Regions from separate parts of the Homo sapiens genome. Here regions 1, 2 and 4 are each linked to region 3. Evidence: fine-mapped expression QTL. A gene starts in region 3. Each other region holds a variant in brackets. All regions are shown on one strand. Distances are from middle to middle. Region 1 overlaps AHI1 (Abelson helper integration site 1). Region 2 overlaps AHI1-DT (AHI1 divergent transcript). Region 3 holds the start of AHI1 (Abelson helper integration site 1). Region 4 overlaps AHI1 (Abelson helper integration site 1).

Evidence for each region. PIP is the estimated chance that this variant, and not a neighbour inherited with it, causes the effect.
Region 1: its variant is fine-mapped to the expression of AHI1 in lung (TOPMed, PIP above 0.99). The same link has a PIP of 0.9 or more in whole blood.
Region 2: its variant is fine-mapped to the expression of AHI1 in skeletal muscle (GTEx, PIP above 0.99).
Region 4: its variant is fine-mapped to the expression of AHI1 in fibroblasts (GTEx, PIP above 0.99).

The regions. Positions count from the first base shown.
Region 1 is chr6:135,279,737-135,288,146 of GRCh38, forward strand. It overlaps AHI1 (Abelson helper integration site 1), which reads right to left. Exons shown (of 29, transcript NM_001134831.2): 29 at 3,796-5,911. The coding sequence ends at 5,909. Among named protein-coding and RNA genes, the nearest start is that of MIR548A2, 45 kb to the left of the region's middle. RefSeq lists an enhancer at 824-3,178. The variant AAAAT/A (reference allele first, on the strand shown) is at 4,850.
Region 2 is chr6:135,523,694-135,532,103 of GRCh38, forward strand. The region is part of intron 2 of AHI1-DT (AHI1 divergent transcript); the gene reads left to right. Among named protein-coding and RNA genes, the nearest start is that of AHI1-DT, 30 kb to the left of the region's middle. The variant CAG/C (reference allele first, on the strand shown) is at 4,804.
Region 3 is chr6:135,493,295-135,501,704 of GRCh38, forward strand. AHI1 (Abelson helper integration site 1) reads right to left here and starts at 4,446. Exons shown (of 29, transcript NM_001134831.2): 1 at 4,289-4,446; 2 at 3,894-3,955; 3 at 2,520-2,604. It overlaps AHI1-DT (AHI1 divergent transcript), which reads left to right and starts at 4,507. Exons shown (of 6, transcript NR_152842.1): 1 at 4,507-4,706; 2 at 5,110-5,223. RefSeq lists silencers at 4,157-4,216, 4,567-4,786.
Region 4 is chr6:135,292,682-135,301,091 of GRCh38, forward strand. It overlaps AHI1 (Abelson helper integration site 1), which reads right to left. Exons shown (of 29, transcript NM_001134831.2): 27 at 7,819-7,877. Among named protein-coding and RNA genes, the nearest start is that of MIR548A2, 58 kb to the left of the region's middle. The variant A/G (reference allele first, on the strand shown) is at 4,630.

The sequences.
Region 1 (8,410 bases), 210 kb before region 3:
GTTTCCCTTGAGCTACTCAGTTTGGGGATCTGCTGGATGCTTTTCTTTTAAAACTTAATCCCAAGCAACAAACCTCTTAGGTCTTCCGAGACAGGATCCGTTTCCAATAGTAAGGATAAAGAAAGAAAATACAAAGAACACACAACTAGTCAAGTGTTTACAGTTAACCTGTAGTAAGCAGGCTGGGACCACTTGAGGCCCCTTGCCCAGCTTCTCACCTCTTTCCCACTGAGCAGGACTCATTCTCCATCCCTGGGACCTTTCCCCAACATCTTTTCCTTCTCACTGAAATGTCCAGATTTAAGGTTCTCAGACCCCCTTGACTCCACTTGTTTGTAGACTGAGAAACTGATCTTCTCTAGGAAATGGGCAAGGCTGTGGACCGTCATACAATATAGATCTCACTTTTCATGGGAAGTAACTTCACTTCACTCCTGGAGCAAGAAGCCTCGTTTACTACATAGCTCCATCCTTAGCGTCAGTCACTATTTCACCTGCATCAAATTACACACATCAAGTCAAGAGCGGCTCTGTCTTTCACACTGATATGAACCAACAAATAACATATTGTTAGATAGGATCTATTTTGGCCAAAAACCCCACAAGCTTTACATTTTCTTCTTTCTCTGGATTGGATGGGGTTGGAGCAGGAATAATTTCTGTATCATTTGTACTTTAAGTTTGCAAATGGCAGGACTGCAGCTTCCAGAAGAGGCTGGCACACAGAAGCTGGTCTTGTGAGCTTGGCTTACAGGAAAAGAATGTGTTTGAGAGACAACCAAGAGAGAACTGATCTTCAAATCTTCCAGGAGAGAATCCATCCTATCTAGCCCGAGGGACACATGCATGGGAAGCGCTGACCAAACTGTATCGTTCCCCTTCCCAGGACTGTCCCTCTTCAGGAAAAGACCACACATGGCAGAGAAAAGACTGAACTCATGATTTCAGTCTGGGATATTTTCCATATTCTATATATTGTTATTTTGAAATTCAAAAATTACAATCTGTCCTTGGCTACAGGGTACTCTAAATATTAACAGCCCTATATTCATGTATGAAGGCAAAAAAAAAATCTACCTTCACTTAATGTGACTACAGGATCTCTAACAACTATAGTATAACAGTCTGTCGCAAGTGTATTGGATGTTTCAGTTTGCCAGACCTGTCATGATAAATTAATTACAGGATGTTGCAGAAATGGCAACGCTCCAGCAGCATCTTGCATAGTTTAATATAGACCCATTTCCCCATTTCAATGTATTTGTGGTTAGATAAATCCTCAGAAATTTACAGCTGCTATAGACTAGTTTATTATGTACTCTGCCTGCACACATGATAAGTATAAGAATTCGATGTGCTTAAAGTGCATAGATTTTACTGATATTTCTTTACCACCATGGAAATATTTAGTTGCTAAAAGTAGCTTCAGTAGACACGTCTGAACATTAACTTTTGTATAATAGGCAGGGATGGTTAAACACATTACTGTGCTTAACTTTTATTAAAGAATCATAGTTCAGGAAAAGTTATGTGGAGCATTTATACAGAATGGCCCTGTGAACAAATTTAAGACCAAAAAAACACCTTAACTACTGATTCTCAGCTGAAAACATCAAAAAACCAAACTGAAGCTACCAAACTTTTCTCTAGGGAACCTTCTTCCTTTAGTCTTGTGACCGCTTTGCGCAAGCTTCAGTTGCTTATTTTTGCCCTGGCAGCAAGTTATGTTCCTCAACTTCTTGCTTTTTCCTCCTTTCAGACTATTTTTTTCTTATCTTCACTAACATCTCCACTCCAAGCAATGTTAAGAAATCATCCTTTGATTGGCAATATTTGAGTTTACTTACATAAATGTTTTATAAGGAAACCATTCTTAAATTTTCTTCTATTCTTTCATTGGGCTCAAATCATTTTTATGAAGAAATGAACTACAGTGAGTAAAAATCATATTGCTTAGTACTTTTAGAAATAACACTGAAGTATGTATTGGAGCATTTTGACCTAAGTGATAAGAGGTAGAACATGAATTATGTGTGGTGTACATATCCCTTTTTTAGATTGACGAGAAACTAAAATTGATTCTTAGCAGCATTAGCCTCCCTAGCTTTTCGAGACGAAAATAACCCATCTATAATCAGTATGAATTTGAGGTGTTAGAAGAGCAACTTTAGAAAACCCACTGCTCACAACATATGCTTGATGTAGATTTGAAGGGGATCATTAGAAAAATAGCATTCTTTGTGTTTACAAAACAAATGTTTTTGTTATCCAGTTCCCGCCTTAGCTTAAAGTATTTCCTATTCACAATAATTAGAGCAGAAGGATATGAAGAATGAAGTGCCTCATTACCAAGTTTGCTTCCTGGGCCTCGGCAGAGAGTAGCTGTCTGCTTTTGCCTAGTTAGTCCATTGTTAACCCTAAATGATGCTGACATTCAATTCTCCTGCATATAATTGTGTCCATCCATAGAATGAGTTCTCCAGTCAACACAGCCTTTTGATTGACATGCTTCTTGATGTTTTTATTCTCTCATATATGACTGGAATGGCGCCTTTTCGGTTTCTTGAATAAAATGTTACTGTACATGTAATTAGTTTGATTCTACAGAATCTGTTTCTTAAGGAAACATAATTATAGTATGGAGTAAAGATTTACTAAAATAATTATGATAAACAAATGATCAGTTTTTTTTAAAAAAAGTTCACTCAGATATATTTTATTTTATTTAGGTCACTGTTGAATGACAAACATTTGAGATGTTTCTAGTCCCTGAGTGTGGTCATAGGCACATGCCAACTGCTTCCTTACTCTTGTGTGTGTTGTCATGTCCAAATATCAGCATTTTCCTCTCCACAGCAACTGAGATCCAGTACTTTACAGATCACCCAGTGGAGTCTGATATCTCCATTTGCAACTAGCAGTGGCTGGAGTTGTGCAGTTGGAGAAGTTACTTAACCTTCAGAACTTGGTTTCCTTAGTTCTAGAGCAGGGAAGATTTTATCTATCTCATAGATTTGATGTGAAGAGTAAATGAAGTCATGTACATAATAAAGTGAGGATTTGGGGACTATTTTCGGTACAGTTCAATTAAATAGAAACGAACAAATATATAGCTTAAAACATTTGGATTGCTTAAAAGTGTTTCCATAATTCACTAAACAGATATGGCCATCAGATGGAAATCATTTGAATACACATAGAAGTGTAAGGTCACAAACTTTTGTTATAGTTTCTAGAACTTCCTAACTCTTAAAAATATTTGTGGCTAAATATATGACTAAAGTGACAACATGTCACATGAAGCTATAAAATGGTAAGTTATTTCTCAAATATAGTCTTGCTGAGCTTCCTAAAGACATCTTTCTTTAATTAAATTCTTCTATAATTTAAAGATAATATTAAGGTCAAGTATTCATTTGTATGTGATAGAAACCCTGCACAAGATTTCAGAAGTACCAAGCGTTAGCCATTTAAAAGCACTGATTTCATTTAAAATATGCATTTTAAACATAAATTTGCATTCACTGTGTAAAATATTTCATGTTTTAAATCTTTTAAAAACTTGATTTTTATTCTAGCTTTCCAAGTCCTATACATAGTATCATTTCAATACTGAAGAAACATTAATCTTCAAGACAGAGTTGGATGAATAACTGGGCAGTGCATTTCCAACAATGGTTTAAAAATATTATTTAGATATAGAAGAAGACAGTGTCAAATTGTTACTTGTTTGGAGAAAAGAGATGACATGGGATAAAATTCAGTACTTTCAGAATAAAGATAAAACAAACCCAATTTGTTATAAGGAAATGTTTAATGCCGTACATCATCAAATGGATTCTGGTGTCTGATTTTCTGCTTGATTATCAGCTGGATCTATTGCTTGGAGGGCACTGTCATGATCTCCCCCACCCCATCTCATCTCAGATTGTGTGGTAAAGAAACATCTTTTATTAATCTATTCATGAACATAACCCTAGTCTTACTTTGTCAGCGAGACAAAGGGGAAAAGGACTGGGCTTTCAGTAGAGCCAAATTTTCCTGGTGTTTGCTTCAACTGCTATTTTTCTCTTTAGTAGTTGCAATATAAAAACAACCCTTTATTTTTCATATAAACATCAAGAGCTTAGCAAATGCTTAGCTCCCCCTGACATATTTTTCATTCATCTTAAATTATTTCTAAACTTGTTGAAATTCTTGGTGATTCAATCAGAAAATCAACACATATCTCAAAATTATTAGCTGAAACTGCAGAGAAACAGATATTTTTATTTTTAAATTATCAAGTGCATTCACAAGACAGAAAAAAACAAGCTTGTACAAGAGTGACTCAAGCTGGCTGGGCCCAGCTGTACCTGACACACAGACTTATACATCCAGAACAATGAAAACTCAGTGCCATCAGAACAGACTTTTGGGCGGATGGCTGTAGGCTTCACCAGTTATCAGTGCCACTCAACACTTTCAAAAATGCCTTTTTTTTAAAGTTCTACACAGCGGGACATGTTTACCAATTTTTATGCCTCTACATGTGCAGGGATAAGAGCCAAATATATTTTTATTAGAAGATATTTCACACTGGGTATACATCTGGGCAAAATTTACACCTCAATGCCCAACATTGTTTTTCTCACTTCTTATTTTAATGGAATTGACTGTCTAATTTGGATAGGTCTTTCTAATTTTATATTAGTTTTCACTTTCTTGGGGTTAAATATTTTATCAGCAGACCTTATCACACACTTGAGAAAGGAGTCAAGAAAAGAACAAAAAATGAATATCCCATTATAATATCAAACTTCAAAACATATAGTCTATAATAATGACACTATTATTCTGGAACTTAGAA[AAAAT/A]AAATAATGCAATATAATAATGTAAAAATATTAAGATTAAAATAAATATTAAACAATGTAAGTCTACAAAATAGGTATGTGCTTAAATATGAAAAGCCTTTTTTAAAAAGTAAAGACATTGGGAACATTGTTGCCAGTCCAGCCAAAAATCACTTTTAATTTAGGTCTATGAAGTTACCTATATGATTTGATCTTAAGAAACACAAAATTTTAATTAGAAAGTAAATTGTTTTCTTTTAATGTCTTTGTTACTGAGACTGTTTTGAATGCGCCATATTCTAAAGCTGCTTATCTTTTTTGTTTTTTGGAGATAGAGTCTTGCTCTGTCCCCCAGGCTGGAGTGCAATGGCGTGATCTTGGCTCACTGCAACCTCTGCCTCCTGGGTCAAGCAATTCTCCTGCCTCAGTAGATGGGATTACAGGTGCCTGCCATGAGACCCGGCTGATTTTTGTATTTTTAGTAGAGATGGGGTTTCACCATGTTGGTCAGGCTGGTGTTGTTGAACTCCTGACCTTAGGTGATCCACCTGCCTCAGCCTCCCAAGGTGCTAGGATTACAGGCATGAGGCACCGTGCCCAGTCAGCTGCTTATCTTTTAAATAAAGTGAATTTCAAAAACAGATACTTCATATTCTGGGCATAGCATCACACATACAACCATTACCAATATAATAATATTAAATGATTACTTAACAGACATCCTAATAACGCAAACACCTTTTATTCACATTTGCTGAGTAGCAATTACAGTGTTTTCTTCATTAGTTTTCCAACACTGGTAATGTAATTATGATGCAATTACTAACAATATAAGTACCAATACTTTGACCAACAATAGTCACAATGGTTTATAACAACTGAACTCAAAGGCCACGTTGATTTTTCCACCCACAACTTGATTCTGATTTTTCTAGAGTCATTCATAAGAACAAGAAGTAGTGGATCCTTTCTTCCTCCTTAGTATCTGAAAATTCTGAACTCTGAAGAGAAATTCCATTTGGTTTGTCATTTTCACCTCTGTGCATTTCGGCAGCTCTTAACTTTTCTTCAATTCTTTACTGGAAAGAAAAATACACAAAATGTACTAAATAAACTTGAATAATGTCTTCTGACTACAACCAAATCTTAGTGTGCTCAGGCAACAGCACAGGTAATAAAGGACATTGTGTAAAACACAAACACATACAAACACAACTAAAAAAGACCAAAATACTAATTTCCTATCTTCTAGTTTGCCTCTCAAACATTGTTAGCATCTTTTTGTATCATTAGCAATTGTTTAAGGCCTGCTCCTGCATTGACAGGTTAATGTAAGCAAGAAAGAAATAAAATCCCCAAATATAGACACTAAAAACTCCAAACCATAAGTAACTTCCAGAAATGAAGAGCAGGCAATCAGAGTATATGAAATTCTTCATTGAATGGGAAAAAAAGTCCTCATGGATGATATTCAGGGTTAGTGATTCGGAAGGATACAGATAATTTTATTAAATAGCATTCTTTCATTTAGTCTATGGCTATGCCTACTTTTATATAATTAGGTTATTACATTTTTCAAATCAATTAAAAAATGGGCTGTCTCATTTTTGACCAAGATAGTAACAATCAAGCATCCAGATGTGGCTTTGATGTAAAACAAATTATACAATTCATAAAAATCAAGAACCAATATGCAGATGAAACAAGAAGTTGCTTCCTTAGACAGCATGTAGTATTTGCACTACAACTAGTGTGAGATAAATTAGTGGGGCTAAACCTAACATTTTTTAATGCAATCATTCATACAGCATTGATAAGTTCTGGACTTACACAGAAAGGTTACTGTCCTTCTTCTAAAGAGAAAGGCTTAACACCTGGTTGTCCTTAGAAAACACACGGCAGTTTCAGAACGATGGCAAATCTGGTTAAGGTAGCAGTCAACTCCATCGACCACTCCTGAGAAAAGTGACAGCTGGCACACTGTGGCAAGAAAGGGCAATGGCTAACCATTCCTGAAGGGCTTTCCCTGGGGGCACAGGAGGTGTAGGGGACACCTGTGCTTTAAGGAACAGGCCCAATCTTAAATCAATGGTCGCACTATCTTTTCATATAAAACACATTTACACATGAGGGGCAAAAATTCTTTATCACTTGATGTTTCTTGATTTTAAATTTGTTAAACAGAGCTACTCCAGGTAAGCTTGTATCATATATAGAAGCCCAAAAATACGTTCTAGTGAAGCTCATGAATGCACATGAAGTTGAGTATAAAAATGGTACAGAATACGGCATGCCAAGGTATAATACCACTAGGGGCAAAAAAAGTCTCCCTGTACATATACAGAAAAAGTACGTAAAACTTTCACCAAATTAGGATCTGATAAAAATGGAAAAGAAAGTAGTTTCAATGAAGGCTGGGCTAAAGTCACAGAGAGACATATAAACTTCTGCAAAAGGCAGTGAGGAGGGTAAAGGATCTTACAGGAAGAATAAGGCAAAACAAAGTGAGAGGAAGAGTTCATGTTAGTGGGAGGACAAAAAAGAAGAAGAAAAACAGAAAAGGGAAGGGGGAGAAGGGGAGAAGAACAGCTGGAAATTAGTGAGATGGATCCTGCACGTGCAGAAGATGTAGGACAAGTGAAATCAATCAGGTGGTGACTGCACTGTGAGAAGTAAACAGAGAAGCCAGACGGACCTTCAGGAGAAGAACCCAAAGAGAAATTCAACTCGAAAAATCTAAAGTAGGCAGCAAAGATAACATCTTTGAGGGAAATGATTCAGACTCAGAAGAGGAAGAAACACACTGGATAGAGAATGACAAAGATGGCGCATAAAAGGGAGAAAAGAGACAGAATAAAGATGGTCATGTGCACCCTTCGGACACTGGCGGCTCCTCCTGACGATGGGAGGAAAATCAAGAGTGGCACACTGGCTTGATGAACGCTAACAGCAAAAGGACCTGAAAGCTAGGAGACAGCAGGGATGTGCTGAAAGAGGGAGGAGAAGACATCTAACCAAAAGACAAGGATAAATGCAAAGCCATTCCTTCTCTATCTTCTCATAAAGTATCTCTGTAATCTAACAGAGGAAGAAAGTAACGAAGCAAAGCCCTTTTTAAAGGCTCTTGTGATGAAAAGAGAAAGAAACATTCTTCTTAGCAAGCTTATGAAAACAAGTATGAAACTAGGTTAGTGTTTGTGTGTATGTTATGTCTGGGGAATAAGATTCATAAAAATACCGGGCCGTGGCCGGGCATGGTGGCTCATGCCTGTCATCCCAGCATTTTGGGAGGCTGAGGCGGGTGATCACTTGAGGTCAGGGGTTTGAGACCAGCCTGGCCAACATGGTGAAACCCCATCTCTACTAAAATACAAAAATTAGCCAGGTGTGGTGGTGGGTGCCTGTAATCCCAGCTACTCGGGAGGCTGAGGCAGGAGAATCACTTGAATCCAGGAGGTGGAGGTTACAGTGAGCCAAGATCGCACCATTGCAGTCCAGCCTGGGCAACACAGCAAGACTCCCTCTCAAAAAAACAAAAACAAAACACAACAAAAAAACCTGGACCTTACCCCACAAGA
Region 2 (8,410 bases), 30 kb after region 3:
CTACACCTTTCACTTCTCTGTCTGCTCCACTAGAGTATAAACTTCTTAAGGCAATATGCCTTTTTCATTTTTGTATTTCCAAGACTGTGCCTTGCATATTATAGATGTTATTTATGGGATATCCTCTGAAAAATCTCCAAGTGAGTCCTAAGATCCTAGACATTGCCTAGTAATAATTTTTCCTTCATGAGGTAGCAGATGGATCTAATCTATTTTTTATTTTATTATTATTATTATTATTATTTTGAGACAGAGTCTCGCTCTGTTGCCCAGGCTGGAGTGCAGTGGCACGATCTCCGCTCACTGCAAGCTCCGCCTCCCGGGTTCACGCCATTCTCCTGCCTCAGCCTCCCAAGTAGTTGGGACTACAGGCGCCTGCTACCACACCCGGCTAATTTTTTGTATTTTTAGTAAAGATGGGGTTTCACCATGTTAGCCAGGATGGTCTCGATCTCCTGACCTCATGATCCGCCCGCCTTGGACTCCCAAAGTGCTGGGATTACAAGCGTGAGCCACCGCGCCCGGTATTTTTTTATTGTTTTTAAAGTGACTTATGCAAAGGTGGCTATGCCTTTTTATAAAAGATTAGCACAAAGGGAGAATAATAACATTTGCAAATTATTTGCTTGAAGCTTTTATTTAGAAATCTGTTACATGTCCTTTTTTGATATATATATATATATATATATATATATATATATATATATCTCTATAGATCTGTAGCTAGATTAGGGAGAAATTTGGGCCTAAATTTGAACTTTTATACACCAATTAAAGCAAGTAGAATTTGTAATATATTTCACCACAGGCCACAATTTCTGCCCTGGAGAAGGGGTCAGATCGTGGTCTCCATCTAGGGGAGCAGTTACCTGATAGTCACATAAACTGCAGGTCAGGCCCCTCTGTGGTCTGCCCCTGTTCAGGTTGGATTTCCAAGAAAACAGGCTCTAAGGAGAAGGTTTGAATATGGAGATTTATTTAGGAAGGCTCTTGGGATCCATCCTTGGGGTGGGAGTGAACAGATGGGGATAGAGCGGAGTAAAAAAATACAGAATTGGGTGGAGGGAGAGAATGAATAACAACGCTGCCATAATAAACACCTCAACTAATCCTATGGGGAAGACTGGGGCTGGGATGACCCCAGCTTTGAGAGGCAAAGGGGGCTGTGCCTTTATGCTCCTGCACAGACCAGTCTCCCAACCCTACCCAACTGCAACTTGATGAATGAGGGCCCTTTCTTCAACTGTGGTCAATTCCCAAGAAGGGAATCAGATGAGTACTGGGGGAGTGCTATAGTTTGAGTGTACGTGTCCCTCCAAAATTCATATGTTGAAACCTAATCACCAAGGTGATGGTATTAGGAGGTGGGGACTCTGGGAGGTGATTAGGTCATGGGGGCTCCAGGTTTGTGAATGGAATTAATGCCCTTACACAAGAGACTTCAGAGATCTGCTTCCCCTTTCATCTCCTTCATCCCTTCCACCATATGGGGAAACAGAGTTCATCCAGTCCTCCATGTTAGGATGCAGCAACCAGGTATAATCTTGGAAGCAGAGACAGACCCTCACCAGACACAGTCTCCTGGGACCTTGATCTTGGACCTTCCAGCCTCTAAAACTGTAAGCAATAATTTTCTGTTATTTATAAATTACCCAGTGTAAAGTATTTTGTTGCAGTAGCAGGAATGGCCTAAGACATGTAGTGAGTGTTTCAGTTCTGAAACTGCAAGTAGAGATCCTGGTTGTGGACTCTAAGTTCCTAAACCTCCTCATCACTTATTGGGAAAGTCAGTTTTGGGGCTCAGGACCATTAGGAAAATTCAAGATTCCTGCCTCATTCAAATGGAGGGCTAAATGCAGGGTAGGAATAGCAAGAAGGTATTTTCTTTCAAGCCCATTTCCCTCTTCTTTCAGGCTGTTAAAACATGTTCACTTGTTCACCTGCTAGTGGCCATTGGCTCAGGGAAAGTGAATCAGATCCCTTGTTCAAGGGGATAAATTTAGTTACTCTTAGCCAATCATGGTGATTCTATTCTGCTTTTCAGAGACTGGTTTAACAAGAGTCATGTGATCTTTCTGGTCAATGAAAGATAAGGGGAAGCCAGCCTGGAGTTGCTTCAGAAAGGCTGCTCTTAAACAGAAACATATTTGAAGAAACAGTAACTTTATTCTGACTCTTTATGTGTGTGGCGGAGGAAGTGATGCCTAGAGCTACTACAGGCACTTAGGCCATGAGGAGAACCAGTGTAAGTCAGCAAGCCAAGATGCTAAAGACAGCAGAATAAGAAAATGGCAAGAATCTTGTCCTTGATGCTGTTGAGCTACTGAATTAACCAGGGCTGCAACTCCCTGTATTAGTAAGGATTCTCCAGAGGAACAGAACCAATAGAATGTATATATAAGTATATAATAAGGAATTAGCTCATGCAGTTACAGAGGCTGACAAATTCCAATATCTGCAGTTGGCAAGCTGGAGACTCAGGAGAACTGACGGTGTAGTCTAACGGCTAGCAGGCCCAAGAACCAGGAAAAGCTGATTAAAGTTCAAAGGCGGGAAAAAAAAACCCAATGTCCCAACTTGAAGGCATTTAGGCAGGAGGAATTCCCTCTTATTTATGAGACTGTCAGCCTTTTTGTTCTATTTAGGCTATCAATTGTTTTGATGAGGCCCACAACATTAGAAAGGGCAGTGTGCTTTGCTCAGTCTATCAATTTCAACGTTAAACTCATCCAGTATAATGTTTGATCAACTATCTGGGTATGCCATGGTTCAGTCAACTTGACACATAAAGTTAACCAATCGTCAAAACCCCCTACTTTTGGTTTCTTGATAAATAAAATAATATTTATCTTCTGTTTTAGTGGAATAAAGGTATGGAAAACGCTTTGATCAGTTTCTGTCTTTTGTTGATCTGGAATTGCAGTATCATTGTGATTAAAGAAACTAAAATACAGTGTAATTAGGGGATCACATCCAAATTTTGCAAACCCTTTGGTAATGTTTAGAATATATTTGATTAATTCATTTTCAATTCAACAAACACCTGTTAAATACTAACTATATGTCAGCTAGGTACATGTTATATGTCAATGAAAAAAAAAAGAAAAAATTCCCCTTGTGGGGCTGACATCTAGCATATAAACAAATGGTCAATTTTAATATAGTTTTGGGTTTATTTAAGCTTATTACAGAATAAAAAAATAGTGCCCCAAACTGACCACTCTTGCATAGCCATGCCCAGCAGCCAATACTACATAATGTCAACCTACAACACAGCACCATCAAGTTGTTACTCAAATGAGACCTAGGCTTGACGGGATGTTAGGAGGTCCATTTCTATCAATCAGAGTCTGGAGTTCATCCATCGCCCTAAGCCTGCTATTGAGGGAGCCCTATGTAAACATTTATGTGGCCACCAATAAATAGTAAGCCCCTCAATCCCAACCCTAACCTCACTGTGTTTCTAGATTCTTGCCTCTGTTCTTTGTTTGCACTTTATTCTTTGCTGGTAACGGATTCTAGCCCTGAACTCCAGCCAAATTGTCTGGGCCTACGAATTGACTAGTCTTGCCAACCTCTTCTCTCTGGGGGATCTGGATCCTATCCCAATTTTCTCCCCTCTGCAGCCCACTGGCTAAGGCCCTATTACAACCCAGACAACCTCTCCCATTCCGAACATAAAACTGTCATCTGTTGGATAATAACATTTCCCACATAACCAGTTCCTGGTGCCATGCTCCCACCTGGCTTGAGATGGTGACTGTCACCATTAATCTGGTTTGGATTCAGGTTTGGTATGTCCTGTTAGATGCTGAGACTTGGGGGAGCTTATAGTCATATACCTCAGACCTCCCCTATCCCCACCAGTCTTGGCTTACTTCTCTCTCTCCTACAGATCTACAGCTGGGGTTCTCTTCTGGCTCTCCTGCCAAGGCCAATCAGATCGCAATACAAAAAAGTAACACTTTCCAGCATTCTGTAGAGTCTGATTTTCTAAACAGTTCTTTAGATTTTAATGCATCTCAATAATAGTTATAAGTAACATTTTATTTTTTTCTGTGGCAGATTAGGCCTCCTGCAAAATAGTCATTTTCAAAAATTGTCTAAGATTCAGATGCCGCACCCAATGTTTATGCTTTTTGCAGCAATATGGTCCTAATTCAACATCATGCAGCGTGCAAATCAGTGTTTCTTCTAACTTCAACAGTGATAAATATTTATTAAGCCTCCACTATGTTCATGGAACTATACCAGGTGCTGCTATAACTATTTTTCCTTTCCAGGAAAAATAAATTCAAATATGGAATAAAAAGCCCAAACTCATGAAACTGGACTGACTTTGCTTCTTAAAAATTCAACATGCTGCAGCTGCATGCTTAAACCTGGTTCAAACAGGATGATGAAATAAAACATTATTATTGTGGGAATATAACACTGTCTAAATAAATAGCCAACATGAAAACTGTCTCTAAAACCCATAGCATCTGTATGTGCAGACTGTAAGTAAGTTATATAATTCCTCCACTATTCTGTAACATGGCCAATTCAGAATGTCTTACCATTAATCTTGAAGACATTTAAAGATGTTCACTTTTCTAACTCTTCCCTTTGAAAATATATTTGAACCTTATTTGCAATAAAAATCTCATAATATTGTATTACTTTTTGATGTGTCATTTCTGTTAAATGGTGCCTGGAATAAATCAGCTTTGACTTTTCAGATTACATGTGTTGTTCCAGAGTTTTAGTAGTTACAACATACATTTACATTTTCTAATGTCCTCACTATAATGAAGATAAACA[CAG/C]GGGTAATTTTTCTCATGTCATGTGTATATAGGATAAGATTACCAGGCCAACAGTGTCACTATCAGATTTCTTTCAGAAAGTGTTTAATGTTGAATTTTAATCACATGCTTGAACAACTAGGACTTTTTGGGTTTTATTTTTCAAATATGTGTTAGTAAGAAAACAGACTGAAATGTGGAATGTACCAGATAAATCTCTTTGGTGATTTTACATATCTGTATGATCATGTTTGACTTAGAAATACCAATCTTTTGATCTTACACTTCAAATGTTACATCTGTGAACATAAAAATCTATATGGCTATAACTTTCCAGGAAGAAATCTTGCTCAAGTAACTAATAAATGATCCAAGTTTTAGATAATTCTGACATAATTCCAACATATTTCCTACAGTATTTTGCTTTAGAAGACTTTCTGACCCAGATATTTATGGCTAAAGTCCATATTTTATAGATCAAATGATAATTACCTTGTAGAGGAAAGCATTTGTTTTTGAATAGTGCCAGGAGCAAGTAAGTGTAACTAATATTACACGATAGATATTTCTGCAGATAAGTGAGCTTAACTCTCGTGGTTAAAACTTATGGTTAAATTTCCACAGATTAGTAAAAGTTCTCAGTTTTATTAACAATTCTCCATTTTCATTAAAAGCCCTACTTTCCTGATAGTTAGGCTGATGAGAAGTTAGTTCAGAGGGCTGCTCATTCCCATATTCATCACTTTTTATTCAGTAATGTTATTTTATGAATAATAATTTTCTTATTTGTTGAGGCGTATATCATGATGTTTAGATGTACATTACTATTTGTCCAATGCAACTAATTAGTTAAATAGGAATGAGTTGTAATGATCAGAGGTAATCCCAGAAAATATTTTTTCAAGTTTACAAACTTATAACTTTATAACTTTACAAGTTATAAAGAGACCTTCATAACAGTTAATTAAATCAAAGAATCCTTTAGTTGGACCATAAGCACTAACAGTCGGCATTCCGTGAATATTTGTTATATGTTTGGTATTTTGCTAAGCACTTCATTTTTTTTAAGTGTCATTTAATTTTCACATGAACCCTATGAAATATGTATCATTATTAGTCTTATTTAAATGTTGCTGAAGCTGATGCTTCAAGGAAAAGTATCATGCTTAAGGACGAACAGCTACCAGGTGGGGAACCGGGGACCTGAACTGGGTAATCTAACTTAACTTCTGCTTCAGTATCATTTTAGTTATATCTTTCTTGTACAAGTATGTCTCATCTTCCCTGTTAACTCTTCATTGATAGGAAAGACCATCTTTTTTTAATCTTTATGTTCCATTACTTGCCTTGGGCACAGTAGAGACCTATAAATGTTTGGTGCTCACATTTAATAAAAATGTAGTAATAATAGCACTATGATATATAGCAATAATTTTTTTTTTTTTACTTTTTAAGGGTTAAATAGGGTCAACGTGATTGACTCACTTGTTTTTGCTTATTGTACTTAAACGTCTAATATGTTAGATTAACTCTATTATTAATGATTTGGCCACGTAAAGTCAACGGCTATTCTGAAATAAACAAAATGGTCTGTAAATCCCTTGGTATATTTTTGCTGCCAAAGAGTACAAACATTCATTCAATAAATATTTATTGAGTAGAATGAAGTGAAATCCAAGTGCAAGAAAACAGCAAAGAAGTAACAGAGGTGATTGAGAAAATAGAAAACAGTAGTGAGATTCAGAATGACAGCAGTGGCTTCCACTTTAGTGTAGGTAGTTGAAAAAAGCCCTACCACAAAGTTAAACTTCAGCTGAGACTAGACGGGTGAGGAGGACATGAACTTGGCCAGTTTGAAGGTAAAGATGGATGATGTGGCTGGAGTATAGTGAAATTGTAATTTCTACCAATCTAAAATCCAAGGCAAGCTTTGCCTGAGCCATTCCAGACTTCCCTGGTGGATATGAATTAGATCATTCCAAGTCAAATGTTCATGTGTTGAAATCTAATACTAAAGATCCCTTAAAAAATTTTTAGACTAATTTCAATGACCTTCCATTCTGGTCACTTAGGATAATGGGCTAAAATAGAAATCCCTCTGAAACATTATTCTCTCTTACTCTTATGGTTTTCTGTCTTCTCTGGATCAACACGAATGGTACTCCCTCCACTGCCCCAAATATTTTAGCCGCAACTTGGAAGCCCATGGCACATCCTGTGTGTATTAAAAGAGGGCTCCATTGACTACCTGGTAATGACAGATGCTTGGTTCTCCTTGGAAAACAATTCTTCTAGGTCACTCACTTTCTCCATTCAAGACTCTGACACCTGGGTCACAATTTCATCCTCTGCTAAATCCTGTTATTATCTTCCCTGACTTCAAAGGTTCTTCCACCTCTCCAACTCCAGTGATTTTCACATACCTTTGTCACCCCACAAAATACTGGCAACTGTGGATATACTCTGAACTTTGTTATTCCCTACAATTGTCCTGCCCTCTTACTTCCAGCTCTCTCCTCAGACCTTACTCTCCATAGATGTCTCTCTGACACCACAGACATCTCTTATCTCATGGCTCTGTTACCCCAGTTTATCTACCACATTGTTCTTGTTTATATCCCTCCCCAGCTTGAACCCTATAACTTATTGATGGAACCACTTTTTTGTACCAACATCCCCAAATCTCTGAAACCTTGGACTTTCCTATGCATATACCTTGGCTGTTGAACAGTCTCAGAAAAAGGTCACTTGGTATTTGCTAGGGGCCAATATAATATTTAACTTAGCTGGAGTCTAATCAATGCTTGACTGTCCTATGCTTTGTTCTTGGTTAGTAATTCTTGCCACCCTTCCCAAGAACTTCTTTAGATTCCTGCCATTCCCCCTTAAGATCCTTTTTAACTTTTTCTTGGTGCCTTGGCCTTTTATTCTACTGACAATATTGAGATGTTGAAGAATGAAAACTTTCAAACACCCATACCTTCCCTCAAATTTTGAACCAGAATCATCCTTGACTCTCTCCCACCAATCTCAGTGGAAGCTCTCTTGCCTTCTTCCCAAGGCCAGGCCTTCCAGTTAGGATCTTGATTAGGATACTATTCTGTCTGTTCTCCAATTTTCTTATATGCCTTCAACTTTTCTGCTTCTCTTCATCTGTCTTTTCTTAAGGCTTATGGAACTCCCATTTAAAAAATCTTTGAATTTGTGTGCCCCTTTAATGTTAGCCATGTCTGTATCAGCTAACCTTTATCAGCTGTTTTCAGAAAGAATAGTCTGCACTTGACCACCACCACTTCTTGAATTCCCCATTCATTCACCTATTAAAATCGGGCTTCCTCCTCTATCCTCTGCGCTGACAATATCTGGCTAACCATAATTGATCTTACTATTTTTAAATCCATTTATTTTATTTAGCATACTAACCCATTTCTTGAAACCACCTCTTTATTTCATTAATGCCCTCTTCTGTCATCGAAACTCTCTGCCTATTGCTTCCTTGTCCCCTTTTTCTATCTTTTTTCTTTGCATAATTCAAAATGCTGGTACTCTTGGAGGTCTTTTTTCAGCCCATTGCTCTTATTACTCTGCATATGCTTCTTCAGATAGGGGCAGACAGGATGTGGTTC
Region 3 (8,410 bases):
GGCCCAAGGCATTATTGGTTAATGCTCCAATTCCCTGGACATCCACATTCATGTTCCTCTTGCAGAAATGTCTAAGAAATTCTAAAAAGAAAGGAATGATTATGTAAACATACCTAACTATGTCAGTTAACTTAGGCAACAACTACGTGGCACCCAGTCAAAACAGACATCACTAAATCCATGGAGTAAAAATTCCTATACTTTAGTGATAGGAGCCTGTATTTACTCCTTCTAGCAGTTATAAATTTAATAAATCTAGTCTTCTACTTTCTAGTCTATATTAAATTAGAAAAGAGAAGCTGCAAAGGCAAGTGCAATGACAGCATGAGTAATTGAAACCTGAGAGCACGGAAGTAGAAAAATCATAAAACAAATAAAAATTTAATATTTATACTACTCGATGGTCATCTAATAGGCCAGGAAAAAGCTGACCTATATTATGACTATGATTCATCAAAAAAAAGCCTGCTGGGCGCCGTGGCTCATGTCTGTAATCCCAATACTTGGGAAGGATAAGGCGGGTGGATCACTTGAGGTCAGGAGTTTGTGTCCTGTCTGGCCAACATGGTAAAACCCCATCTCTACCAAAAATACAAAACTTAGTCAGGCGTGGTGGTGGGTGCCTGTAATCCCAGCTACTGGGGAGGCTGAGGCAGGAAAATCGCTTGAACCTGAAATGTGGAGGTTGCAGGGAGCCAAGACTGCACCAGTGCGCTCCAGGTGATGGAGTGAGGTAATATTTTAGAAAGATTAAATAACTAATGAAGAGGCAGGAGAAAGAATCGGAGATAATTCCCATGTTTCTAGAACTAGAATAAGTAGATTAGTAGTATCATTACACTGTAATATAATGCAGTACAGGGCAGTAGTTTAAAATCCATGTCCTAGAATTAGTTTCCATAGTCACTTGCGTGACTTTTGTTTCCTCATCTATAAAAACACCCTACCAGTGCCGACTCAAAGGGTTGTTGTAAGGGTTAAATGATTTAGAACAGTACCGTAGACAGAAGAAGCAACAATAAATGTTAGCTATAACTGTAACAGGTTGTTAGGGTGCAGTCACTGAGCTTAGTATGGGTCATGTTGAGTTGGGTATCTGAAGGGCACTGAGCAGCTACAAGCATCAGCTCCATTTTCAGATCCTTGGATCCAAATACCAGTTCTATCTGCCAGCAGATTCACCTCTATGGATATCAACTTCCTAATCTTTCACAATAATAAGAGTAAATCACTCACAGTGTTTTTATAAAGATTAAATGAGAATATGCAAATAAAATACTAGGCACAATGCCTAGCACATGGCAAGCCCTTCAAAAACAACAACTGTTATTACTGTCACGTGTGTGTGTGTTTACGTATATAATCATATTATGTTTGTTAGGCAATCTACTAATCCAGCAGGGAGACAATAGGCTGAAGATTTGGGAGTTATTTATAAATATGATAGTTCCAAGAAAATAAAAAGCCAATGAGAATCCTGTGAGCCTACAATATAAAGTAAAATCAGGGAGATAGGTGAAAAACTGGGAGATAGAAGCATTACAGAAGCAAACCCAAGTTTTAAAGGAGATGTTGCCTATATACTGTGTGGCATCAAAAGGGGCTGGAGGTTTTGAAGAAAGTCCACTGAATCTGCAAGTAGGAAGTCACGTGTGTCAAAGCTGTTTATAGAGGGGCAGAAACTTAGCAGGCTGGGGCTAAGGAATGAATGGAAGGTGACACCTGTAGAAGGGACATGTAGACAATTCTTTACAGAATTCTTCCAACTGTCTTCCCATCACCCCCAAAGGCAGTGACATGAGACAGTAACTCTGAGGGACAAAAACACTGTGGAAGGATTATGCTTTTTGTTTTAAGATTGTTTCCACGCCGCTATCACCTTTCCCTTAAAAAAAAAATCATCATCTACACAGCAACTAGTGTAATTTTCTAAAATTCAAATGTGATGGTGTCGTTTCTTCGCTTAAAATTCTTCACTAGCTCCCAATCGCACATTGAAAAAAATATCAAGTCCTTACCAGTGAGGTCCAAGGCCATTTATGAAATGTCCCCTTCACACATCCACTGTGTTCCAGACATGTGAAACTACCTGCAGGCCTTCACGTGTGCCAAGTTCTCTCTTGCTTTTGTATCATTACACACATATCCCCTCCCCTGAAAAATGTGCTTCCTCCTTTGTCTCTCTAACAAACTCCTCACTATCCTTTAAAGGCAAATGATATCTTCTCTAGAGAGCATTCTCACCTTGAAGGGCATTTAAGAACTTCTCTTCTGTGCTTCCAGGGTGCCTTAATCTTTGTAGCTCCCTCTACCTCAACCTTGAATTTTCACCCTGGTAAAATGTTCTGTAACTCCCACCAAACTGCTAGCTTTGGAGGACCAAGCCAATGCTCTCTTATAGTTATGTATCTGCCACTATGAAAGAAAAGAGAGGAGAAGAAGAGAGAAGCGAAGTGAAGAGAAGCAAAAGCAAAGCGAGTAAAAAAGACTCAGGCTTGAGCTCTAGTGTCACCACTTACTGATGTGTGGCCTTGGGCAAGCTACTTAATTTCTAATCCTTGGTTTTTCCTTGTCTGGGAATTTAAAATGGCACCTATTTTAGTACTGTAAGGAGAAGAGAAAATACCAAAAAGCAAAGTAATCAGTACATTGCAATAAAATTACTTTATGTCCATTATTATTGTATTAAAAATAAGTAAATAATTACAAATAAAATATATAAATCATATACTTATTTACTATTAACAGCTTAATACACAACTAAACTAATAAATACTAATATTATGTAATGATAACACAGCAAATACAGTACAGAAATCATCTCTAATTTTTTTTTTTTGGAGACAGAGTCTCGCTCTGTTGCCCAGGTTGGAGTGCAGTGGCACAATCTCAGCTCACTGCTGCCTCCGCCTCCTGGGTTCAAGCAATTCACCTGCCTCAGCCTCCCTGGTAGCTGGGACTACAGGTGTGGGCCATCACACCCAGCTAATTTTTGTATTTTTAGTAGAGATGGGGTTTCACCAACATTGGCCAGGCTGATACTGAACTCCTGACCTCAAGTGATCCACCCACTTTAGCCTCCCAAAGTGCTAGGATTACAGGCGTGACCCACTGCGCTCAGCCATCTCTAAATCTTAATATGTACTACAGCAAACATGATAGAATTAACGGCTAATATTTGATTAGTAACCTCTGCAAAAAATCAGATAGGACTTTAAAAGACACCTCTGATTCTTATATATTCCATTATTTTACAACTTCTCCCTCACAAACCCTTTCACAGGAGCGTCTAAGAGATATTACACAGGAAAATTAAATGGATTACATTTCATCTCATTTTATTTTACAGACAACCTGATTATCAGCCAATATGTGGCTCAATATCATTGGGAGAAAAAACTGAGAGGCTTGATAATTCGCTCCTTAACCAAATGTTATCGCAAGGGAAAAAAAGACAAACAAAAATCCTGTATACAAAATTCAATGAATAAATCAACAAGATTCTTCATAAGTAAACAAGATTCTAACTTCATAAATATTATTCCTCATAAACAAGATTCTAGGTATGGTTTAAAAACACTTTTGGTATTTGAATTTCTTTCAAGCATTCTTTAAAAAATTTCCCAGAGTACTCATAAGAAGCAATCTTCCTCCTAACGCCCAAGCAGTAACAGCAACTGTTAATGCAACAGGTGAAAAAATCGTTGGCATCTCTTTCTCAAAAGAAAGGGGAAAGCTTTATTTTCACAATAGATGTTTTTACAGGAATGCTAAACGCAGCACAACCTTTGATAAGGATTCTTAAATGGTCTACATTTTTGTTCTATTTTTATGCATCTCGAAACAACCCTATTAATATAATTTGGCTCTTATAAATATAACAAATTGATCACCTTTTCTCAGACATAATTAAGAAGGCTTTGACAGGTTGAAGATTCAGCCCCAGGTTGACACTCTAAAAGGAAATAAACACACTCAGTACACATCTGATTTAAAAGCATTTAAATAAGAATCGGGAGTAGGAAAGGCAAAGATTGAATTCTCTATCAGAGCACCATGCTCAACTCTCCGGGGACACGGAGACCAGTGAAAGAAGCGCAAAAGTACGGTGAGGACTCTCAGAAATCGCATTCCCCCGGGACACCCGGCCCACGCTCGTCGGTCACTACGCTATCAGCCTCCGCGCTCTCGGACTCCAGCAGCCCCGACACGCCGCCCAGGAGAGGGCCGGGCAGGCCGAGCACCCCGGCCCGCGCTCCCGCCACCAGCGCACCCATGATGTACTCACGGAGAGGGGTACGCAGAACCGCCCGTCCCGCCGGAGCCGACACCCGGAGCAGTGCAAATCAACTCCCCCAGCCTAGCGGCGCGTGCGCGAAGTGAGGCGGCCACGCAGCCACCTAACCCGCCAGCGACCCGTGTCCTGAAAGCAAGCCGCGGCTCTGTGCCGCAGTGCGGACAGCGCGCCGCCTGCTGACGTCAGCGCCTGCCTACGCCGCCGTTCCCATGGCGACCGATGCGTCCCGCGCTCTAGGCGAAGACCGCGGCCCCGTCCCCGCGCCTCCACCGCCTTCTTCCAGGAGGAGGGGCCGTGCGGCGCCTGCCCGGGGGCCCTCAGGCCGCAGGCGGGCGCGAGCTTCAGGGAACTTAGGGGGCTCCCGCCTCCCCGGCCACGCGAGCGGGAACAGTCTCCTCCACTCGGAGCGGTAAGGGACCCGGAAATGCGCGGGTGCCCCTACAGAGTCTTGAGTTTTCCCCGCCCTCACCTCCGAAAATGCTCTTTTCGCCTTAGAATTGTAGCTAGCGCAGGGAAAAACTGACTGGGCAAAGGAAAACTGGGGAGGCTGTCATGGAAGCCGCCCAGAATAAGAAAATGAATGAATGAGGCAAAGAAACAGATTTGTCACTCCCCACGCGATCGCGCCCACAAAAGAAAACATGGTTTTAAGGCGTGGAAAATGAAGTTGTACTACAGACAAAATTTTAAGAAAAAATTATCCACTGTTCCTTTAGAGCTATCTCCCTGTGTGTGAAAAACAAAACAAAAGTTAAAACGCCATCCTTTTCTACACCTAATGCTCCCTCCCACTTTTCTGATTTCTGCCACAGGCGCCATCTTCAGCTCTGAGTCACCAGGGCTGGAAAAATACTAGATGCGCTACTCGTGGACTCGTGAATACACTCGTGAATACAGGCCATTTCCTGTACCTACAGCCACCCGCTGTAAGCTGTTGCTTCATTTGTACAGTAAGAGTTTATGGAGGCCAGCTTTTCCATTCTTACTGACATTGCCACACCTTACAAACTATATGTCTTGTGCTTCCCTAAATCCTGTGAGGAAGCAACGAGAAAGATTACTAATCCAATGCGTACCGAACTGAGCTGTTCAACTTTCCGTTCTAAACATACTCTCCTAGATTTCTATCTTGCTGTAAGCCACCACAATCCTCCCAGTGTTTTAGTAAGAACAGTAGAGTATCCTAAATGCATCTTATGCCAAAGCATATCCATTCTCTCTTTTTAACTTCCTCAGATGGGCCCTTTACCAGTTCTCTGACTCCAGTTTGACTCTTAAATTCTCCACACTGCTATCAGAATGACCTGACTAAAAATGTAAATCGGATAATGGCACTCTCCTGCTGAAAATTTTTGAAAGGCAATCTGTAAGAGAAAATGATTACTTTGCCTAGGATACAAGATTCTCCATCTCCCTGACTAGTTTCATCTCTCGTTAGCTTCTTGTTCCAATTTTATGCAATATTGAATCATGTGTACCATGCAGTTTTATGCAACATTGAATTATGTGTACCATGAAAAACAATCCATAGCCTTTCACGCCCCGTCCTTACTCATATTGTCCTCTCTTCCTGAAAATTCCTCCTTTTACACTCCTGCATCACAGCCAAATGTTGTCCATCCTTTGAATCTTAAGCAGGTTGACTGACTCCTTCAAACACTCCTACTCCCTATTAGACTTCGGATACTCATTCTATATATTAGACTTTGGATGCTCATTCTATAGTTTCATAGTTTACTTTGTATTTTCTCTATCCCCAGCATCTACCACAGTGTCTATGAAATAGTTGGCATTTCATGAACATTTGTTGAATGAATAATGGATAACATATATTGAGCTCCTTCTAGGAGGTATGCATTGTAGGTGTTTTATGTACTTTTCATCTGTCCTCACAACTGCATTTAAGTACCTGCTTTTCCAAAGGGAAGTTATAACTCTGACTGCTCATTCTTAGTAGGGTGTTAGTTTCAGAATACAATCCCCAGACTAGCGGATGTGTAACCCTGTTATCATCTCTTGCTTCTCCATTTACAGTAGCATGCAGAGGTGCAGTGGGGTGGGGGAGGTCAGGGAATATTTCATAGCAGAAGTGACATTTAAGTAAAGACCAAAATAATGTGTAGAGTTGTCCAGGTTAGGAAGGGTTTCCAGGTAGAAGAAGGTGGCGTATAGTGTTCACTACAAGAAAGTTTGGTATAATACAAGAACTGGAAGAAAAAAAAAAAAAGTTCAAGTTGGCTAACTAAAAGGTAGAGAATGAGACTAGGGGCTTTTGGAGGAGACAAAACAAGAGAGTTAAACAAGCTATGAAGAGACCCAGACAGTATTGGTCAGTGGAATACCACTATAGAATTTTATGGAGTGAAATTTTCAAATTTTAATATCATAAAGATAACTCTGGCTGCAGGGTGGAGAACAGACAGGAAGGAAGCAAATCTAGATCTGGGAATACCATTTAAGATGCCGTTGCTGTAAGCCATGTAAGAGACAAAGGTGGCATGGTCAAGGCTAAGAAAAATCAGAATGGAGAGAAATGGACCAATTTGAGAAATTTTTAGGAGGTAAAAATGTCAGGACTTAGTGATTGATTGGATGGAAGAGTGAATGATAAGAAATAATAAAAAACGATGACCAGCTGTTTTGCCTTCCCCTTGGCAAGTAAAGAGGTGGCAAGCATGAAAGGGGAGTGAGGAAATAAATATGTTGGGTCTAATGGGAGCCAGGTTTCTCACTGACAGAGAAGGACGTTACAAATTGAGAGAGGAAGAATTCCACAGTGACCTTTGTGGTGATGTTGAATTGGAATTGAATATGTCAGTGTCAACTCATAGTTTTCAATATATACATAAACATATGTAAAAATAAATATAGAGGAAAGTATGTCTGTATGTGTGTGCGTATCTATCTATTATGCTCTTCCTAGCTCTATCTGCTGAAAGGGTTTCAGAGTAATGGTATACTAGAAGCAATGAGCACATGTGCCTAGATCTTGGTTTCTGAACAGTATTATTCACTAAAAGTAACTGGGTCCCTTGGAGAAATGGTTGATTTTAGAACAGGAGCCTGGAAAATTCTTGTTGCACCAGAAGTTAAGGAAGTTAATACAGAATGAAGAAACATATCAAAAGGTCACAGAAGCCAGCTTGAAGGAGCCACCACTGGCCACATCTGGGTCAATCTGAGCACCAATATAATGTTAATGGATTATAGTCCGCTAAATAAAATAGGAATATTTGAGCCCATACTAAAATGAATAAATGATTTTTTTGAAAAATCAGGATAAAGAAAAGCTCTGCCTTACATAAAAATGCCAACTAAATGTAATGAATGTAGACAGTGTTATATGTAGAAACATCATTATTTGGCAGTCATGATAGTAACAGTTGATTCAGACTAGAATCATCAGTGTATGCTAAAACTAGAGGGTGAGAGTATTAAGAGACATATAATATTTATATAGTCTCAAAGTATCTCTCCAGCAAATACTTATTAATTACACAGAGAAAAATTAGAAAACTTGACAGTGTAGAAATCTGGCACTGGTGAGCGAAGTTACCATCAGCAGTCATGAGACAAATCAGCATCGTGTATGTCCTGGTTAGAGGCACTTAGAATACACTTCTGTGACATTCCTGCCAAAAATGTGTAATCCGAATCAATCGTGAGGAAAAAATCAGACAACCCAAATGTCCCAAATTGAGGGACATTCTACAAAATAATAGACCTGTACTCTTCAAAGATCAAGGTCATGAAAGACAAAGGAACAACTAAAGAACGTTTTTAGATTGAAGGAGAATTAAGATACATGACAATTAAGTGGAATACATGATTCTGAATTGAATCCTTTTGCTATAAGGATATTATTGGGACAACTAACAATTTGAATGGGGTCTCTGGATTAGATGGTAGTATTTTAACAATATTAATTTCCTGATTTTGATGACTATAGTGACATAGATATTTTTGGTTTTAGAAAATACATATTGAAGTATTAAAGGTGATGAGGCTTCATATCTGCAACCTATTCAAATGGTTCAGGAAAAAAGTATACATAAATACTGTAAATAAATATAAACATAAATAATATACATAAAGAAAATGATAAAGCAAATG
Region 4 (8,410 bases), 200 kb before region 3:
ACTGGCCTTACTAGACAAAGACTTAAAATCCGTAATTAAAAATGTGTTCAAAGAACTAAAGGAAATATGTATAAAGAACTAATGTATGAGCAATGTCTCATGAAATAGAGAATATGAATAAAGAAATAGAAATTACACAAGGAGGAAGTAATACTAAATCTACACAAACTATTCTAGAAAATTGAAGAGGTGGGAATACTTCCCAACTTGTTCCATGAAGCCAGCATTATCTCCTCATCAAAATCAGCTTAAGATGTTACAAAAAAATTACAGACCCATATTTCTCATGAACAAAATGCAAGAAGTTCTAAAGGAAATTTTAGCACATCAAATTCAACAAGCACTATCCTTTATAAAAAGGATAACACACCACTAAGTAGGTTTTATCCGAGGAACGCGAAGTTGGTTTAACATTTGAATATCAGTGTAACTCACCATATTAAGAAATTTAAAAACAAAAACCATAGATTACTTAACTAATGCAAAAACATGTTTGAGAAATCAAACATCTATTCCTGACAAAAACTCTTAGGAAAGGGAAACTACCTAATAAAGGGCATTTATAAAAAACCTAGAATAACATCATACTTCATGGTAAAAGATCAAATGCTCCTATTCATTTCCCACATGATCAGGAACAAGACAAGAATGTCTATTCTGACTAGTTTTATTCAACATTGTATTAGAGGTTCTACCCAGTGTTAACAGGGCAAAAAAAAAAAAAGAAAAAAAAAAAAAAAAAAGAAAAAAAGAAAGAAAGAAAAGGCGCCCAGATTGTGAAGAAAGAAAACTGTCTTTTATTTGCACGATTGTCTGTCTACACAGAATATCTCGTGGAATCCACTAAAAGCTATTACAACTAACAAGTGAGTTTAGTAGGTTCGCATAAAACAAGATCAACATACAATAATCAGTAGTATTTCTATAAACTAGCGACAATACCATTTACATATGAAACATGTAGGAATAAATCAACCAAAGACCTATACACTGTATGTCCAAGACCTATACATTGAAAACTAAAAAATGTTACCAAGAGAAATTAAAGAAGTTGTAAATAAATGCAAAGATATATCATGTTAATGACTCAGATGATTGAATATTGTTAAAATGTCAATTCTCTCCAAATTAGTATCTGGATTAAATGCAATATCAATTGGAATATGCTATAGAAATTGATAAGCTAATTCTAAAATTCACGTGGAAATGGAAAGAACCCTAAATATTAAATAGCCAAACCAAATTTGAAAAGGACAAAGTTGGAGGACTAATATTACCTGATTTCAAGACATACTACAAAACTACTCAGTAATTAAAATAATGTGGTAGTAGCATAAAGACAGAGGAATAGAAAAATAATGGGCTGGGTGCCTTGGCTCACACCTGTAATCCCAGCACTTGGGGAGGCTGAGGCGGGTGGATCACTTGAGGCCAGGAGTTTGAGAACAGCCTGGCCAACATAGTGAAACCCCATCTCTACTAAAAATACAATAAATTAGCTGGGTGTGGTGGTGTGCACCTGTAATCCCAGCTACTCAGGAGGCTGAGGCAGGAGAATCACCTGAACCCGGGAGGCGGAGGTTGTAGTGAGCCGAGATCATGCCATTGCACTCCAGCCCGGGTGACAGTGCAAGACTCCATCTCAAAACAAAACAAAACAAAACAAAACAAAACAAAACAAAACACCCAACATTAGCTTGTGTAGTGGTGTACGCTACTTGGGTGGCTGAGGCAGGAGAACTGCTTGAACCCTGGAGGCAGAGGTTGCAGTGAGCCAAGATCACGCCATTGCACTCCAGCCTGGATGACAAAGGGAGATTCTGCCTCAAAACAAACAAACAAACAAACAACCCTCCCCCCAAAAAAAACCAAAAGAGAAATAGAAAAATAATAGATAGACCATAAACAGACCCACATATATATTAAGAGCTGATTTCAGCAAAGGTGCAAAGGCCATTCAGTTGAGACAGAGTTGTTTTTCAACAAATGATGCTAGAACAACAGGATCTCCAAATGCAAAAAAAAAAAAAAAAAAAGAAAAAGAAAAAAAAGAAAATAAACTCTGATCCAAAACTCACATCACATATCACACATACAAACTAACTGAAAACAATTCATAGTCTTAAATAAAAAATTATAAAACTTCTACAAGAAAATATAAGAGAAAACTTTAGTGGCTTTGGGTTGGCAGAGGTTTCTTAGATATTATACTAAAGCATGATTTGTAAAAGAAAAATTTTGGTAAACGGAACTTCAACAAAGTAAAAAACAGTTTGCTCTTCAAAAGTCACTGCTAAAAGAATAAAAAGGCAAAACACAGATCAGGAAAAATATTTGAAAATCACATAGTTGATAAAGAACATATTTAGAATATATAAATGACTCTTAAAATTTAATAAAACAAATAACCTATTACAAATGAGCAAAAGATTTGAACAGAAATTTCACCAAAGAAGATGTATGCATAGAAGGTAAGCACATCAAAGGATGCTTAACATCATTAGTTGTTGGGGATATGCAAAATCAAACAACAATGATATATCTCTACATGTATTGGAATGGCTAAATTAGAAGGACTGACCATATCAAGTATTGGTGAGGAAGCAGAACTCATACATGTTGGTAGGACTGTAAAAAGGTAAAACCGTATGGAAAACAATTTGGCAGTTTCTTAAAAAGTTAAGCATAAACCAACTATATAGTCCAGCCATTCTACTTCAAGATGTCACCCAAGAAAAATGAAAGCATAACCTTCTTCAATGCCTCTTTCAGTGATATGATGTTAAACAAACAAAAAAAACCCCTATGTTCACACAAAGACTTGTATATAAATGTTGATATTAGCTTCATTTGTAGTAGCCACAAAAACTTGTACATAAATGTTGACATTAACTTTATTTGTAGTAGCCGCAAAGTGGAAATGATTCAAAGGTCCATCCACAAAGGTACATGAATAAACAAACTGTGGTATTTAAAACTCTAGACAGTGAGAGAAAGTAGATCAGTGATTATCAGGGGATGTGGCTCAGGGAAGGGAAGAAAGATGTAGGAGGGCAAAATTACAAAAGAGCATCAGAAGTCTTGGAGAGATGGGTATGCTCATTACCTTAATTGTGGTGATGGTTCATGGGTATTTACCCATGTCGAAACTTAAACCGTTTATTTTATTTAATTTCATTTTATTTTTTTGAGATGGAGTCTCACTCTGTCTCCCGGGCTGGAGTGCAGTGGCACGATCTCGGCTCACTGCAATCTCCACCTCCCGGGTTCAAGCGATTCTCCTGCCTCAGCCTCCTGAGGAGCTGGGATTCCAGGCGCCTGCCACCATGTCCGGCTAATTTTTTTGTATTTTTAGTAGAGACAAAGTTTCACCATGTTGGCCAGGCTGGTCTCGAACTCCTGACCTCAGATGATCCGTTTGCCTCGGCCTCCCAAAGTGCTAGGATTACAGGCGTGAGCCACCGCGCCTGGCCGCAATTTATTTTATATCAAGTGTATCTCTTTATAAGTTAGAAATATATATGCATACATAAAATCTGACCTCTTTTCACTAACTTCATGGCTCCCACTTTTTTCCGAGGCACCACCACCAAGTCTCACCTGGATAATTTCAATATTATTTTAACTGGTCTCTCTGATTCAACCCTTGTCCATTAATGTCTATTCTTATCTTAAATGTCAGAGGGATTCTGTTAAATTGTTAGGTCACTTCCTGTGTTTAATGGCTTCCTACTTCACTTGGTGTAAAAGCCAGAAGTCTTATAATAGTATATAAGGTCTTATTACTGTCTCTGATTTTATCCAATCTCTCCCAGTTTCTTACTCTACTCTAAAAAGCCTAATTTCCTTACTTTTCTTTGAGGGTAACAGGTATGCTTCTGCTTCAGGGCCCGCTGCACTTGTGTTCTACATACTCACATTACTCAATTCCCTGCCTCCTTCCACTTTTCTCAGGCCTTCTCTCATGCTCCGATTTACAACTGCAACCTTCATGTCTCCTTTCCTTTCCCCTACCCATGCTTTATTTTTCTCCATACTGTAGCACACATCTGGTATAATTAGACATTTTACTTATTTTGCATATAGGTAAATAAAATGTTAGCTCCTTATAGCAGGGATTTTTTATCTGTTTACTGCTGTACCCTCAGTGCCTAGAACACTGTGTGTGACACTGTAGGTGCTCAGCAAATCTATATTTAGCAAATGACTATTACGTGTCTGTCTTCCTTGCCACACTGGGCACTTCCACAATGTACAAGTTGTGTATCATATCATTCATCACTGCATTTCAGTACCTAGTATAGCACCTAGAACAGAGAGCAGATGATCACATTTTCCCAATTGGACTGATGCTCACAAATGAACTACTGACACCTTCAAAGGCTAATCCTGACCCTTCCTCTTTATGGCAGTAGCATCGAGGTCTAGGACAAGACCAAATTCTTGATACAGACAAATAATGTTTGCTCAGGCTCATGTAAAATGCTGGGCAAATACAGCAAGACATGTCTCCTGGCCCCACCTTCCAATCATCAGATGCCCTCAAGACACTCACATTGCATTCTTCTAGAGCCACAATCTCTATCCTGTTTTTTTCTCCCACTGCAATTCCCCAACTCCAAGACACTA[A/G]TCAGTCAGTCTCCTCCCACTCTCTCCCCTCTCTTCATAGCCGTATGCTCCTTTAAACTAGTTCTTTCCCACATCACATCCAAATGCCCTCCCATGAGGCAGACAAAAACTCAAGCCTTACCTTTATCTAGAGGCCTTCTCTAGCTATGCATATTCCTCCTGCCTTCTCATTCAGCTCTCTTCTGTAATTACAATTTGCATCACATCATTTTGCACCTAATTATATAATTGGTTGCCTTCTAAATGCTTCTTATTTCTATTTCCTCATCTGACCTGTAATGCTTCTTTAATATCTCTCAATGCATCTAGCTCACTGCTGGGCACACTGTGAGGTCACACACATGACAATAAATGCCTTTAATTTTAGAAATTGGGGGTAGGATGAGGATTAAAAAAAGGCAGAAAACGGATAATAAAAGTAAAAATTTAGAAGAAAAGTGGCAAGTAGCAGGATTATTTTAGAAAAAAAAATGTGGACTATAAACTACCTCCTCATAAAGAGAAATGAAAGAGCCTGGAATGGTTATTATAAAGATGGAAAAAAATATACAGTGGAGTGACAGGATGCTTGGAATTGACATTTATAGCCGCACCATATTAAGAAGAGATTTCATTCATTTAGTTCAGATTTCAGGGTTAATAAGACTTTAATATGATTAACTATATGAATTAACCTCTCTCTGAACAAAGCTGTTAATGAAATAAAGGTTGCTATGTTAAAAAAAACCCAACAAAATTCAATACAGGCTATATTAGTTAACTATGGAACATTAATACTACTTGTTAAGGATGACAGCATATTTATAGCAGCCTCATTACCAACTCTGACTTAGGCAGCAGATAATATATGAAGAACATCACAGGGCATGCGGTACAAAATGTAGAAGTTTAAGATTTTCAGGAAAATACTTTTGTTAAATTAACCAATAGAAGTTTCTTCTAGATACCTTAAAAAAGAGAATGTAACTTTACTAAAATGTGTATAAATTGCTTGCATAGAAGTGACTGACATTTCTCAAAAAAAAAAAAAAACAAAAAAACAAGACAAGAAATTCAAGTGGAAAGTAGTAAGAGGCTGTCTATGTGGCTCATTTACATATATTGGTCAACCAACTAATAAGCAAAAGTTACAAACTCAAAGGCAGGGCTGCAAAGAAACAAAAAATTAGCCTCTGTCCATTTACTTGGGTACAAGAAACTCATTTAGGTAAATCAAAGAAATGACTTCTTTGTACATGCTGGGCTCTAGTGTTTCCACCATCAACTCGCCTACAGTTTTCAAGTCATGAGAAATCTATCTTAATTCATCCTTACTTCTAAGAAATTGTAAGTAGGGAAAGTCCAAAAGCTTTAGATGAACTTGGGCATTTAGACATATCTGAACTTCTCATGAAAATTTTTATTTTCAGAAGCATCTTCAAAAAGAGAAGCTGAGCTATACTGACATCCTTTAGAAGCTGAGATGTTTGTGAGGTTTTATTGAACTTTAATCTGGAGGGCATGACATGGATCTCTGTATCTCGTGAAAACTGGTATGAAATGTAGACCGAGTGAGGAGTATGTAGGAGACATTTTTTCATTTGCGTAATATTAAGTAAAAAGTTCTAAAAATTTTTATGAAATATGTTCAAAGACACCAAGAGCACTGTTCCCATGATGTGTTAAACATGGTCATTTTTTTTTGGTTGTTGAAACAGTCTGTGCTTATTGTTTCTAGTGTATTTTGTTGTTGAGTATACGCTCCTTAGGGTCAGTGACTGTTTATCTACTATTATGTAAAATTTTAAATGTCCAGAGACTGGAACTAAAAACATATCTGACTGATAACAGTAAAACAAGAAACTATAAAACCTGGAGAGATTATAGAAAGAATTTCTAAGGTATCTTCTAGATCATGATTCTGTGACTCTTAAAAATTACATTTGTCTTTCATCTGTACAATGAAATACTGTCTTGTTAAATGCTGCATGATTTTATTAGACAATTCCTGTAAATAACTGTCATCTGAATCAGAATTTTTGTACTGGAAGAGACATATTATTCTTCAAATTGCCAAAGCATATAGCAGGGTTAACTTGAACAAATATTTTCCCCAAGGAAGCTCAGCAGGGATTGTCTGTGTGCATGTGTGAGTAAGCAAGCACCCAGCAATGTACGTGGGGGTGGTGGTGATGGGATGGGAGGGTATGATAGCTAAGCTGTTCAATGCTGTCACACTTCCGTTATATTTTGTTAGTAATGTAATTTGAATATAAAGTTTGGACATAATGTTAGGTCCAAAAGATAACTGAAAATGATAAAAATTGAGAAATATGTTGGGAATGTTTTGATGTAAAATTTTTTTTTGAGGCAAAAGAGTGACTTTTGATGGGTACATTAAGTGACACAGCAAGTACTAATTAAAAATATAAAAACTTTCCAGAGTTCTTTTAAAATAAATACTTCAAAATAAATTACCCAAATACATTAAGCATTTATAGAAAATATATAATGACAATGTTCTGCTTATTAGCTTTTTTCTTAATGCTTCAAAAAAGGCATTCATAATTTTACTTTTAATACACGTTCACTTGTTTTCAGTTAATGTTATTTCAAAATAGTACTCAAATAAAAATAAATGACAAAATAGGTCCTCTAAAGTTTTGTGTGATACTAGTTTAATAGGATTTCTTATAACTTTGTAATAATACACATTCTCAGAGTCCAACTATTAAAATATTCATTGTTTAAACAGCCAGGCATGGTGGCTCATGCCTGTAATTCCAGTACTTTGGGAGGCCGAGGCAGGTGGATCACCTGAGGTCAGGAGTTCAAGACCAGCCTGGCCAACATGGTGAAACCCTGTCTCTACTAAAAATACAAAAATTAGCTGGGTGCGGAGGTGCGTGCCTGTAATCCCAGCTACTTGGGAGGCTGAGGCAGGAGAACTGCTTGAGCCCAGGAGGTGGAGGTTGCAGTGAGCTGAGATTGTGCCACGGCACTCCAGCCTGGGTGACACAGCAAGACTCTGTCTCCAAAAAAAAAAAAAAAGAAAAAAAAATCGTAAACAAGCTAAACTCCTTTAAAATCAACTATCTGAAATTTAACTTATAGTTTGATAATGTTATAAAAATAAGAAATGGAGAAATTATCCTTAAAAGAAAACCCCAACCATTTATCACTGCAAATTATTTTGAAGAAGTTGCTTACTGTGTCATAGATTCTGAGCCTAGTCTGAAGTCCTGGGACTTGTTCTTATTGATTGATTGCTGTGGAAGAAGAGGAAAAACAAGTAGTAAGTAAAAAATGAGAAAAGACAACACAGTCAATATTCACATGCTGAAAACCCACCAACTTCCTGAATGGGGAGAGAATATGCCTGTTCTGAACAGGAATATCTATGCCTGTCCTGAACATATATTGTCTATCAGGACAATATATTTGCTCCCATGAAAAACCAAGGAAGTAGTTCTCCAGAGAGTTCAAACACTCATTTATAAGTAAAGTCAGCTTTCAGGTATGTGACCAAAAAAAAAAAAAAAAAATCAGTTGTGAATCAGTTTAAATTAATCTCCCAATACAATGTGGTATATTACTTAAGCTCTAAATATATCTTTTAGCCTGCATCTTTCCTTCATATTCTTTATAGTATACTCTATATTTTCATAGTAATACACATTGATCTGTATGCAAGAGTTTGAATTTGAAAGCTCTTTAAATCTACAAAATGTGTTCAGTATATCTTGTTTTATTAATGGCACCTTCGTGAGAAAAACAATAAGCACTTTCAAGGGTACCAAAT